Regions from separate parts of the Homo sapiens genome. Here region 2 is linked to region 1. Evidence: fine-mapped expression QTL. A gene starts in region 1. The other region holds a variant in brackets. All regions are shown on one strand. Distances are from middle to middle. Region 1 holds the start of ST3GAL6 (ST3 beta-galactoside alpha-2,3-sialyltransferase 6). Region 2 overlaps ST3GAL6-AS1 (ST3GAL6 antisense RNA 1).

Region 1 (5,000 bases):
AATGAACTCCTGGTACAAGCAACAACTTGAGCATTTTTTTAAAAAGTATTATGTTAATTGACAGAAGTCAGAAATAAGATATATATTATATGATTCAATTTATATGAAATTTTAGAAAAGCAAAACTATAGTGATAGCAGATCAGGCTGCTAGGGGCCAGGAAGTGGGAAGAAGGAAGTGACTACAAAGAGGAACAAAGGAACTTTTGAGGTTGATGACAATGTTTAGAATCATGACTTCAGTGGTTGTTACCTGATACACTTAAAAGTGGCGAATTTTAGTGTATAAAAATTTTATCCCCAGCTACTCAGGAGGCTGAGGCAGGAGGATTACTTGAGCCCAGAAGTTAGAGACCAGGCTGGACAGTATAGTGAGACCCTGTCTCAAAAAAAGGAAAAAAATGAATAAAGGCAATTTTAAAAATTACACACAGGCTGGGCATGGTGGCTGATGCCTGTAATCCCAGCACTTTGGGAGGCCGAGGTGGGTGGATCACTTGAGGTTAGGAGTTCGAGACCAGCCTGGCCAACATGGCAAAACCCCATCTCTATTAAAAATACAAAGAATTAGCCAGGCATGGTGGCACGTGCCTATAGTCCCAGCTACTTGGGAGGCTGAAGCAGGAGAAATTGCTTGAACCCGGGTGGTGGAGGTTGCAGTGAGCCAAGATTGCATCACTACACTTCAGCCTGGGCAACAGAGCAAGACTCCATCTCAAAAAAAAAAAAAAAAAGTAGCCACAGTCATCAACCTGTTAACAACATCTAATGCTTCTTGGAAGCTGATATCTTATTAGCAGGATGTTAATAAGAGAATACAGGGACAATTTTTACTTTAAGAGAATAAATGGGCATGGAAAGAAAATGTGAATAAACAGTAGGAACAAAAGAAGTTCCCTAAAAGCTTACTTGTGTACTTGCAATGGACCTGAGTCTGAAGAGAGAGCTCTTGAAAACAGGAACTCCAGTTCTTCTATTTTTAGCATCCCATATAGTTGCTATTAGCTGAATGATTTTAGTGTGTCCTGTTGTGCTATTAAAGAAGAAAATTCTGCTGAGAAGTCATTTCTCTCCTTTTTATATTCTTTGCAGTGAGCACACCCCACTTTCAGGAGAGGATCTGGTCATCTGCTTTGGCAGAAGGCTTATCTTTAATTAAGTGAAAAGATCTGTCTACATGTGCTAAGGACAGTGAAAGCACTGGTGAAAGCACTGGCTTTGTTGAAAAGCTGAAAGAGAAGGGTGTTTGTGCATATGCATGTCGGAACCAGCTTCATATCATTGTATTAGCAGAAGAGTTGGGGGAGGAGAGGGAAAGAAAGTTAATTATACGTGTTCCCTTTCTGCAATGCAGAAAGAAAATAGTTATATTCTTAGAAATCAGTCAAAATGTATACAGCTGATCTAATTTGTTGACACTACACAACTCAATATTTTTGGAGGGGGGCATAAATCAGATTTTCTGTTAATTTACTCAGCAATGTCAGAGTTTTTTTCTTAACTTGTATTAAATAGCATTAGTTTATAACTTCAGATTAAATTTAGCCTTTTCGTTGTAATATTGTATGTTTAAAAAATCTATATGTGCTGTTTTTTATTTCTTTAATTATGGTCTATTGAGAATTTCGTCATCCTTCTAGCAGAAAATCCCATCAACCAGACTACTGATTCCTTAGGATTTCTCTCTTTAATTATGAGATTAATAGCTTTTCATATTATAATGTTTCTAAAGAAGTGTGTTTGATAAATGCATAATTTAATGTGTATCATCCCCTTGTTTTATTTTTAAAAGATATTATTAAATGATTATTTAACAGTTCATACTCTTAAAAATATGGTTATTATAGTTTTCTATAAGCCACAATTTCAAAGTGTGGGCTTTGAAATCAGATCTCAGTTTGAATTCTGGCCAGTGCTCTGGGTATTAAACATATCTAGCATGGGGATGAAAATATCCGTGATTTCATCCTTATGTGAAAAAGGGCTTAGTACTGTGCTGGCCATTTAGTAAGTGGTTAATAAACTGTGCTATCATTTACATGATCATCGCTGCCAGAGGTTGTAGATCCTTGGGATATGAATGAAGCTGATCTCACGCATTTGGACTACCTAATTAGTAATAAGGACCAAACCTAAAAGAGAGGTAGTAAATGAATTGAGGAGGACTGAGGCCTTTCCATTCATCACTGTGGAGTCCTGTACATTAAGGCTCAGGTCATATGGAGATGGCTGGGTCTGTGAGGCTTAGGCTTAGGGGACCTATGAGGCTGGACCAAAAAAAATCTAGACATTAATGCATGGCTAGAGTTGGAGGTTCTGTTGTAGATTTGCTCATGTAGGCATGTGACTGCAGATTATAATCACAAATTGAGTAATAAGTACAAAGAGGAAGGAAGGCAGGATGTGAAATCTGTTGGCCATGTTCCACACAGTCTGGAGTGTATGTCAGTGTGAGCTGAAGACCAGCAGAGACTAGGATGGATGACGGCCTGTCCAGGGGCTGAATGGACACAGGTGTCAGCAGGGCCACCTGGTAAAGGTATGGAGGTGAGCCATGAACAAGGTTACCTGCTTAAGGGGAAGGTTGTGGCTTAAATCTAGATGCTGCTGAGATATTAGACATTAGGTGCCCACAGGCTGTGTGGAGGTAGAAGGGGGATGTGCTTCTCTTATTTGCACAAAGATGTGAGTTACTGAGGAGTATTATTGAACAGCAGCATGTTGGGTTTGAGAAGAGACCTAGTAGTAGAAAGAGTAGTATGTCTGCCACTGAGGAAGCAGGGAACAGAAGGGTGCCTCACCCCAGGGCAGATGGGGACATGGTTTAGGATCCTAGTGACTAAAAAAAAAAAAAAAAAAATGGAAGTTTGGCTGCAGAGCTGCTAGGGTGACTAGGAAAGAGAAGAATGCAGACGTTGGAAAAGTGTGGTATAGTTTAAGCACCCAGCAGCAGGAACCCAGGTCCAGTGGATGAGATGACCAGGATCACTACTGGATCCACAGGAACCTGACCCAACTGTTAAGCTGCTAGTCGAGGGCTCCTCAGACTCTCTTTCTGTGGGTCAGAATCAGTCCCAGTGCCTGGGGTGGCTGGGCTTGCAGATGGGCATTAGGAAGCACCTGCTTCCAGACTGAAACAGAACTGGGGATGGAGGAGACAGGGAGGTGAGGTTTGTGTGTGCTCAGCATCCGGAATAGAGAACGCCAAGGGTCTTTCTTCCTTGGTGTTGCATATTGACTGAGATACCCACCGGGTTTTTCTATTAGGTTGGTTTTAAATGACAAAAACCACAATTACTTTTGCACTAACCTAATGCTTGATAAGTAGAACAATGTTTCTAGAATTATTGCTGAACATGCTTTTTTCTAGCTGGTTGGAAAAGCAAGCTCCCTTTGGTTTGAGAAAGCATTAGGGGAGTCTAAAAAAAAACCTGACATTTTTTTCAAGTGTTTCTCCGTAGAGTTTGTTTTTATAAACAATGCTAGCATGGTTGGGAGGAGCAGAACTGGGAACAGGGTTGGGAGTAACAGGCTTTTATTTCAGCTGAGTTTGAATCAAAAGTATTATAAGCTTTACCTCCATTTCATCAATTACTAGAATTGATATTGCTTAAGGAGCTTGCAGGATTGCTTAAGTTGGAGAAATGTTCAGTAATGTTTAGTCTGGTAGCAAAAGGAGGGGCCTGTGCTCACTTGTGAAAGCTCACATCTAGGGGGAGGTAGTATAACGCATGGCCTGTGGCCTGATAGAGACAGATTTGAGTCCTCGTTCTGCTACTTGTCAGCTCAACAAAGTCGTTGCTTCTCCCAGAGTTTTGGTTTCCTCCTCTACAAAATAGGAATTGTAAGTCTACCACTTCTTTTGCAAGGTGGTTGTCAGGATGTCATGAGGTAATACACCAAAAGCAATTATCACATGCCTTGGCACAGGCTAAGCACTCATACATCTTAATGCTTCTAATCAGTTGTTATTCATTGAGCATTTACCACGTGCTAGGCATTTAGGGTAAAAAAAAATAATACAAAGCATCTAGTTATGGGATCTGTATCTGTTACAGTCTCTGTATTTCAGAAATTCTTCCATGGTTCTATTGTATTTCTTAGAGCAGTGATTCTCAAAATTTTAGTGTGCATAAGAATCAAATTGGTGGATGCTGTTTAAATGCACATTCCTGAGCCCCAGAGATTCAGATTAAGTAGAGGCTCAGGAGTGTGCATGTTAACAAGTCCCCGCCTGGTGCAGACTCTTGAGCCTGCCCTAGAGTCACCTCCTTTCACCAATATCTGAATTTACCCTTCTAGACTTCAAGATACCAATGGAACACCATTAGGAATTTTCAGATTAGAATTATCTCTTTTAGATTTGCCTTGTGCTTTTTATCTTGAGAGACAGGATAACACCAGGAATGGAACTCTGAGAAAGAAATGATTGAACCATAAATCTATTTCTGTCTTCCTTAAACTGTGTGACCTCAGACAACTCAACCTTATAAACCTTCAGTTTTCCTCATTCATCAAGAAGACAACACCTGCACACCCATCTAACAAGCTTATTTTGAGCCTTAAATGGAGGGATGGACATATAAAAGATTTTTTATGAACTTTGATGCTCCACACAAAATATGCTTTTACTATTAAAGCAAAGTGAAACATTTGTCAAGATTGAGTTTAATTTGGCATATATAGGTTACTTATACATTGGGTTACATATCTTAGTTGGAGAATATGTGAACATTTGTCCTCTGCCAGTGAGTCCTTCTTTCCCTTGCCATCCTCTACCCACATTTTTGTAAAGGATGTTTTAGGGACCCTGATTTTAGGAGCATCTGCAGCCACAAAGCTGGCATTGGTCCTGTTTAATGTCAAGATCTTGAAAACTCTTTTTTTTGGTAATCAAAGCTATATTAAAGGGCCTTATGTCTTTTTAAAAGCAGATAACCTCTTAAATTCTGTTTTTTTCTTTGAATGTTTTTGCTCAAAGCAAAATGCCCTTCCACTTAT
Region 2 (5,532 bases), 41 kb before region 1:
GCTGGGCATGGTGGCGCATGCCTGTAGCCCCAGCTACTCAGGTGGCTGAGGCAGGAGGATCACTTGAGCCTTGGAGGTTGAGGCTGCAGAAAGAAAAAAGGAATTTGCCTACCTACATTAAAGCAGTGGCCTTGAGGCCGCATCATGAAGTCCAGCATTATAATACTGGTCACAGATGCGGTCACAACTTTTTAATATCTAAATTTCTAAAACATCTGTCTATGAGATTAAAAAAAGAGAGTGATAACAAGTCAAATAAAGCATTTCATCCTCAAAGTATTTTGGATTCTGATGATCAGTGATAGATGGAGGCTTTGGGCTTCAAGTTAATAGACTGTTGCACTGAGGACATGAAATATTTATTACTGTATTTAGTTTTGTCTATCTCCTTATAACTTTGCATTTTCTAAATAACCTAGGCTTGTTATTCATCCTGTGAAACAGAGATATTATCTGCCTCACAATCTTCCAATAATTATTTTAACTTTTAAGTTGGTATATTTAATCCTTTAAACTATGATTTTTAAAGTGTGGCCCCTGGACTGGCAGCATCAGCAACTTCTGGGAGCCTGTTAACAGTACAAAGTCTCATATCACACTTTAATCCTACAGAATCAGAAACCCTAGGCAGGCATCAGTGATCCATGCTATGGCTTTGAGCTATGTTAGGTGGTATGAATCAGAGTGTCCGAGCACTGAAGATTTTTTTGGAAAGCCATTTCACATCTCAGTGGCTGAGAATCCTGAGATAGAATCGTTCTTCTGGCAAATCTTGGGTACATGCATGCTTTATTTAAAGCAAAGATAAGGCAATACTAGTAAAGAAAAATTAAGAAAAAAAGAGACAATTATATTCTGCATAAAGCACATCACCAATTCCATCTTTCCTGATGTACCTAGGAGGTTGTGTCCTTTTTTCTATTAATGCTGTTTATGTCTAATAGTTGCAATATGCTGAAATAGTATTAGTCTACATATCTGCTATGGTCTGAATGTTTGTGTTTCCCCCAAACATGTTGTACCTAGTCCTCAATGCAATAGTGTTAAGAGGTGGGGTTAGGAGGTGATTAGGTCATGAAGGAAGAGCCTTATAAGAGATTAATTCCCTTATCAAAGAGGCATCAGAGAGCTGGTTGGCCCCTTGCACCAGGGGAGGACAAAGAAGTTGTCATCTATGAGAAAGCAAGCCTTCTCCAGACACTAAATCTGCCAGCACCCTGATCTTGGACTTAACGGCTTCCAGAACTATAAGAAATAAATGTTTTTTGTTTACAAGCTACCCAGTTTATGGTATTTTGTTATAGCAGCTTGAATGAACAATGTCTGCAAGCATCATCAAGATAGGGAACCTGTCTGTTCACCACTGTATTCTCTGAACCTAGCTCAATGCATGACAAGTATGAATCTCAGTAAATATTTTTAGTCTCAATGACTATTTTCCTCATATCACCTCCCAAGGCAGAAACTCCATCTAGAACTGTGTATGTCCAGTGCCTACAATGCCACTGTGCTGGACACATAGGTTCTCATGAAATATGTAAAGCAATAAATTAATGAAGGTGTGATACACATATCAAATATCATTCCAATATTCAGTTCACATTCTGATGTACTATCAAGTTGTGCTGGAAATAAGTAGACATAGGTTGATGCCAAAGGAATTTCTGTTGCACTAAGACTTTGATTGTAAAAGTATTTAATGCTAGAGAATTTACATTGCACAAGCTGCTTCTATAGAAATGAGAAAAGCCAGCAGACAAAATAATAGAAAATTATTTCAGACATTTATCCAGATTTGGACCAGAATCTATTTTATTATGCATGAACTAAAACATAAATACTTATATAATAAAATATTAGAAAATGCTGGCCGGCTGCGGTGACTAATGCCTGTAATCCCAGCACTTTGGGAGGCCGAGGTGGGTAGATCACTTGAAGTCAGGAGTTCAAGATCAGCTTGGCCAATATGGTGAAACCCCATCTCTACTAAAAATACAAAAATTAGCCAGGCATGGTGGCATGCACCTGTAATCCCAGCTATTCAGGAGGCTGAGGCAGAAGAATGTCTAGAACCCAGGAGGTGGAGGTTCCGGTGATCCGAGATCACGCCACTGCATTCCAACCTGGGCGACAGAGCGAGACTCTGTCAAAAAAAAAAAAAAAAAAAAAAAAAAAAAAAAAAAAAAAAGGAAATGCTGATAGATGTATGGTTTCAAAAATACAGTGATGATTTTATATTAAACCTGTCACTGCAAGTTTGCCAAGCAATTTTCTTCTAAATATATTTCTAGAGCTGGGTGCAGTGGCTCACACCCATAATCCCAGTACTTTGTGAAGCCAGCTTGGGAGGATTGCTTGAGGCCAGATATCTAAGGCCAGCTTGAGCAACATAGCAAGACTCCCTGTCTACAAAAAAAAAAA[T/A]AAAATAAATAAATAAGTAAAGATAGATAGATAGATAGACAGACAGACACACAGATAGATAGATATGCCGTGTGTGGTAGTATTATCCCTTAGTCCTAGATAGTCAGGAGGCTGAGACAGGAGGATTGAGCCCAGGAGTTGAGCTTGCAATGAATAACTGTGCCATTGACTCCAGCCCTGTCTCTAAAATAAATTAATAGATTGATAAATAAATTCCTAATGAAATAAAGTGACTTTCATCTTTAACCCTTTATAGTCACAGTTGATTTTATCAAAGATCCCAGCTGTTGGTCCTCCAACTGGATATATACAGACCCAAATCTACAGCAATTGGTTTTTTTATTGTTGTTTTAATTTGTTTTGGGAGATAGAGATAGGAGATTATGATAGAATACTGAATAAAAAAGTCTTTGACACAAAAACAAGCTTGTTTAGATCTGTTTAACATTTAAGGAAAGTTAAACAGCTTTCCTTTTTGCTGTTTTTACCTGGTTCTTTAATATGCTAATATGTACTGAATATGGCCTGGAGGCAGGGGTGTGGGAGGCGAGGTTAGTACTCAATCTTGTTTGCGAGATATCCTTTGTTCTTAGAACTCAGATTAGCATCTCCCAGCACGATACAATTTGGAAAAGGCTACTCAATTCCTAAAGTACTGAATCTTTTCCGAAATAACATTTACAAAGAAGGGAAAACTGTAAGGTCTGGGCTGCTGCATCAGACAGCTGTTTACTTAATAGGCCATTCCCAGATCTTTCTTTTTAAGGATAGTAAGAAAAGCACAATTTTTACAAGGAAAAAAATGGAAATGTAATGACAAACTTGAAATTTAGTCTTAAAGTTAAAAAAAAAGTAATGACATGAATTAGTTACTTGTTATCAATATTTCATCAAACCTCAGAAAGTTGAGAATTAAATTATATCTGTTCTCCTCAGTTAAAATTTTTATTTTTATGTCAGAGTCAATTGAGAGGGTTCCTAAAAGAGCACTGGATCCCCCGCTTCTGTCAGGTGAGTTTGTGTGTCTTTGCTTTGGACCCACGGAGACCTGGGTTTGCCTCTGGTTCTGTCCTTGACTGTTTCTGCTCTCATCATATTACCTCAGTAATATCTAACTACTAGATTTGTTGCTATTAGATATGATAATGAATGCAAAATCCCCTCTCCCCTCTTTTTTTTTTGAGATGGAGTCTTGCTCTGTTGGCAGGCTGGAGTGCTGTGGTGCGCTCTCAGCTCACTGCAACCTCCGACTCCCTGGTTCAAGCGATTCTCCTGCCTCAGCCTCCCAAGTAGCTTGGATTACAGGCACACGCCACCACGCCCAGGTAATTTTTGTATTTTTAGTAGAGATGAGGTTTCACCCTGTTGGCCAGGATGGTCTTGAACTCCTGACCTCGTGATCCGCCTGCCTCGGCCTCCCAAATTGCTGGGATTACAGGCGCGAGCCACTGTGCTCGGTCTTTTTTTTTTTTTCCCCCTGCTTCATCTGACTTCTTGTCTGTTGAGGGCTTTCATATATTTGGGGTGGCCATATTTTGCCTTGTGTTGATAGATGACTGTTAAACAGGAATTACTCTTAAATCTCTTTATGTTCCCACATATATCCCTGCTGTAAATATTTATCACTCCTCCATCTCAAGAAGGTAACAGAGCTTTGGTGTTCTGTTGGCTCAGTGATTTTTTGGTTACAGAATAAAAACTAAAAGTCACCAGATATCCAGAAGACAACTCAACTTGTGTTTCTTTTGTTTAGAAATCTTAGACTGATTGAGTCAGAGAAGCAGGAGTCCACTGTTGTGCTTCATGTTAGGGGAATGAGCGTGGCGAGGTGGAAGAGGCAGGTTATTCTACAGAGAAAGAGAAAAGAAACCTAAGGAGAGAAAGAGTTTGGGCGACTAGCCCAAGACTGAGAAGTAGAATGGTGAGTTGTGGATCCCTGGGATAGCATCGCACAGATCCCAGCTCTAGGTGACCTCCCACAGGGAATGCGAATGAACACTATGGGAGGGGAAGCACAAGTGAAACAGAGATAAAGCGATCAACAAGATGACCTCTGAAGACTCTTTCTGGACACCATTAAATATTAGACTGTAAGCAGCCAGGCATGGTGGCTCACACCTGTGATCCCATTACATTGGGAGGCCAAGCGGAGGATCACTTGAAGCCATGAGTTGGAGCAGCAGCCTGGGCGACATAGTGAGACTTTGTCTCTACAAAAAATAAATAGCCGGTGTGGTGGTGCGCACCTGTAATCTGAGCTATTCAGGAGGCTGAGGTGGAAGGATCACTTGAGCCCAGGATTTGGAGGCTATAGTCAGCTATGATTGTGTTATTCATTATACTCGAGCCTGGGTGACAGAGCAAGACCCTGTCTCTAAAAATTTTATAAAATAAAAATAAAAAATTTGCTCTCTCTCGAGGGTGGGAGAGAGAGAGAGAGAGAGCGAGCGAGCACCTCTAGAGAGAGCAAGCAATAATTTCTTTTTATTTTCCTGCTGGTAAACTGTACTCCTAGCACCTAGAACTATAGTGCCTGGCAAATAGTAGGCACTAAGTAAAGATGTATTTAATGATTGAATATGAAGTATGTTAATGACATGAAGGAGGAAAGTTCAAGTAAGATGAGAAAAAGGAGAGGTCAGGATGACTGAGGTTTCATAAGTGGGAGAAAAAGCATTATCACCAATAAAAATGTAAGTTAAATGGCTGGCTGAGCTGGAAGCCTAAAGAGTTTAGCTTTACATTGGGAACTGATAAACACATGTTAAACTGAATGTTCAGCAGGCAATTGGAGATACAAGACTAAGACTTAAGAAAGTAGTCAGAGCTAGGAATAGAAGACTCGCTAGTCCCTCAATGGAAGTTGGGTAATGAATCCTTGAGAGATCTCAGATACAGAGTAAGTGTTGGAGGTAGGCGGTACTGAACTGGAAGGGACATGCACCTTTTCTGAAGTGATGTTCAAATGAACCTGTGAATAATCCTGGGGTTAAGTAAAATTTAGGAACAACTTCCAAATCTTTAGTATTGGTGTGTTACTGTTTTTCAGCCTGTGGATTAGAGTTTTGTCTGAGACATTGTCAGTAAGCAGGACTCTTCACTATCAAGGGC

The links. PIP is the estimated chance that this variant, and not a neighbour inherited with it, causes the effect. A credible set is the group of variants that fine-mapping cannot tell apart.
Region 2: its variant is the best candidate, but not a certain one, in a credible set for the expression of ST3GAL6 in testis (GTEx, PIP 0.54).

Annotation. Positions count from the first base shown.
Region 1 is chr3:98,760,894-98,765,893 of GRCh38, forward strand. ST3GAL6 (ST3 beta-galactoside alpha-2,3-sialyltransferase 6) reads left to right here and starts at 2,447. Exons shown (of 10, transcript NM_001323368.2): 1 at 2,447-2,546.
Region 2 is chr3:98,719,617-98,725,148 of GRCh38, forward strand. All of the region lies in intron 1 of ST3GAL6-AS1 (ST3GAL6 antisense RNA 1), which reads right to left. Among named protein-coding and RNA genes, the nearest start is that of ST3GAL6-AS1, 10 kb to the right of the region's middle. The variant T/A (reference allele first, on the strand shown) is at 2,422.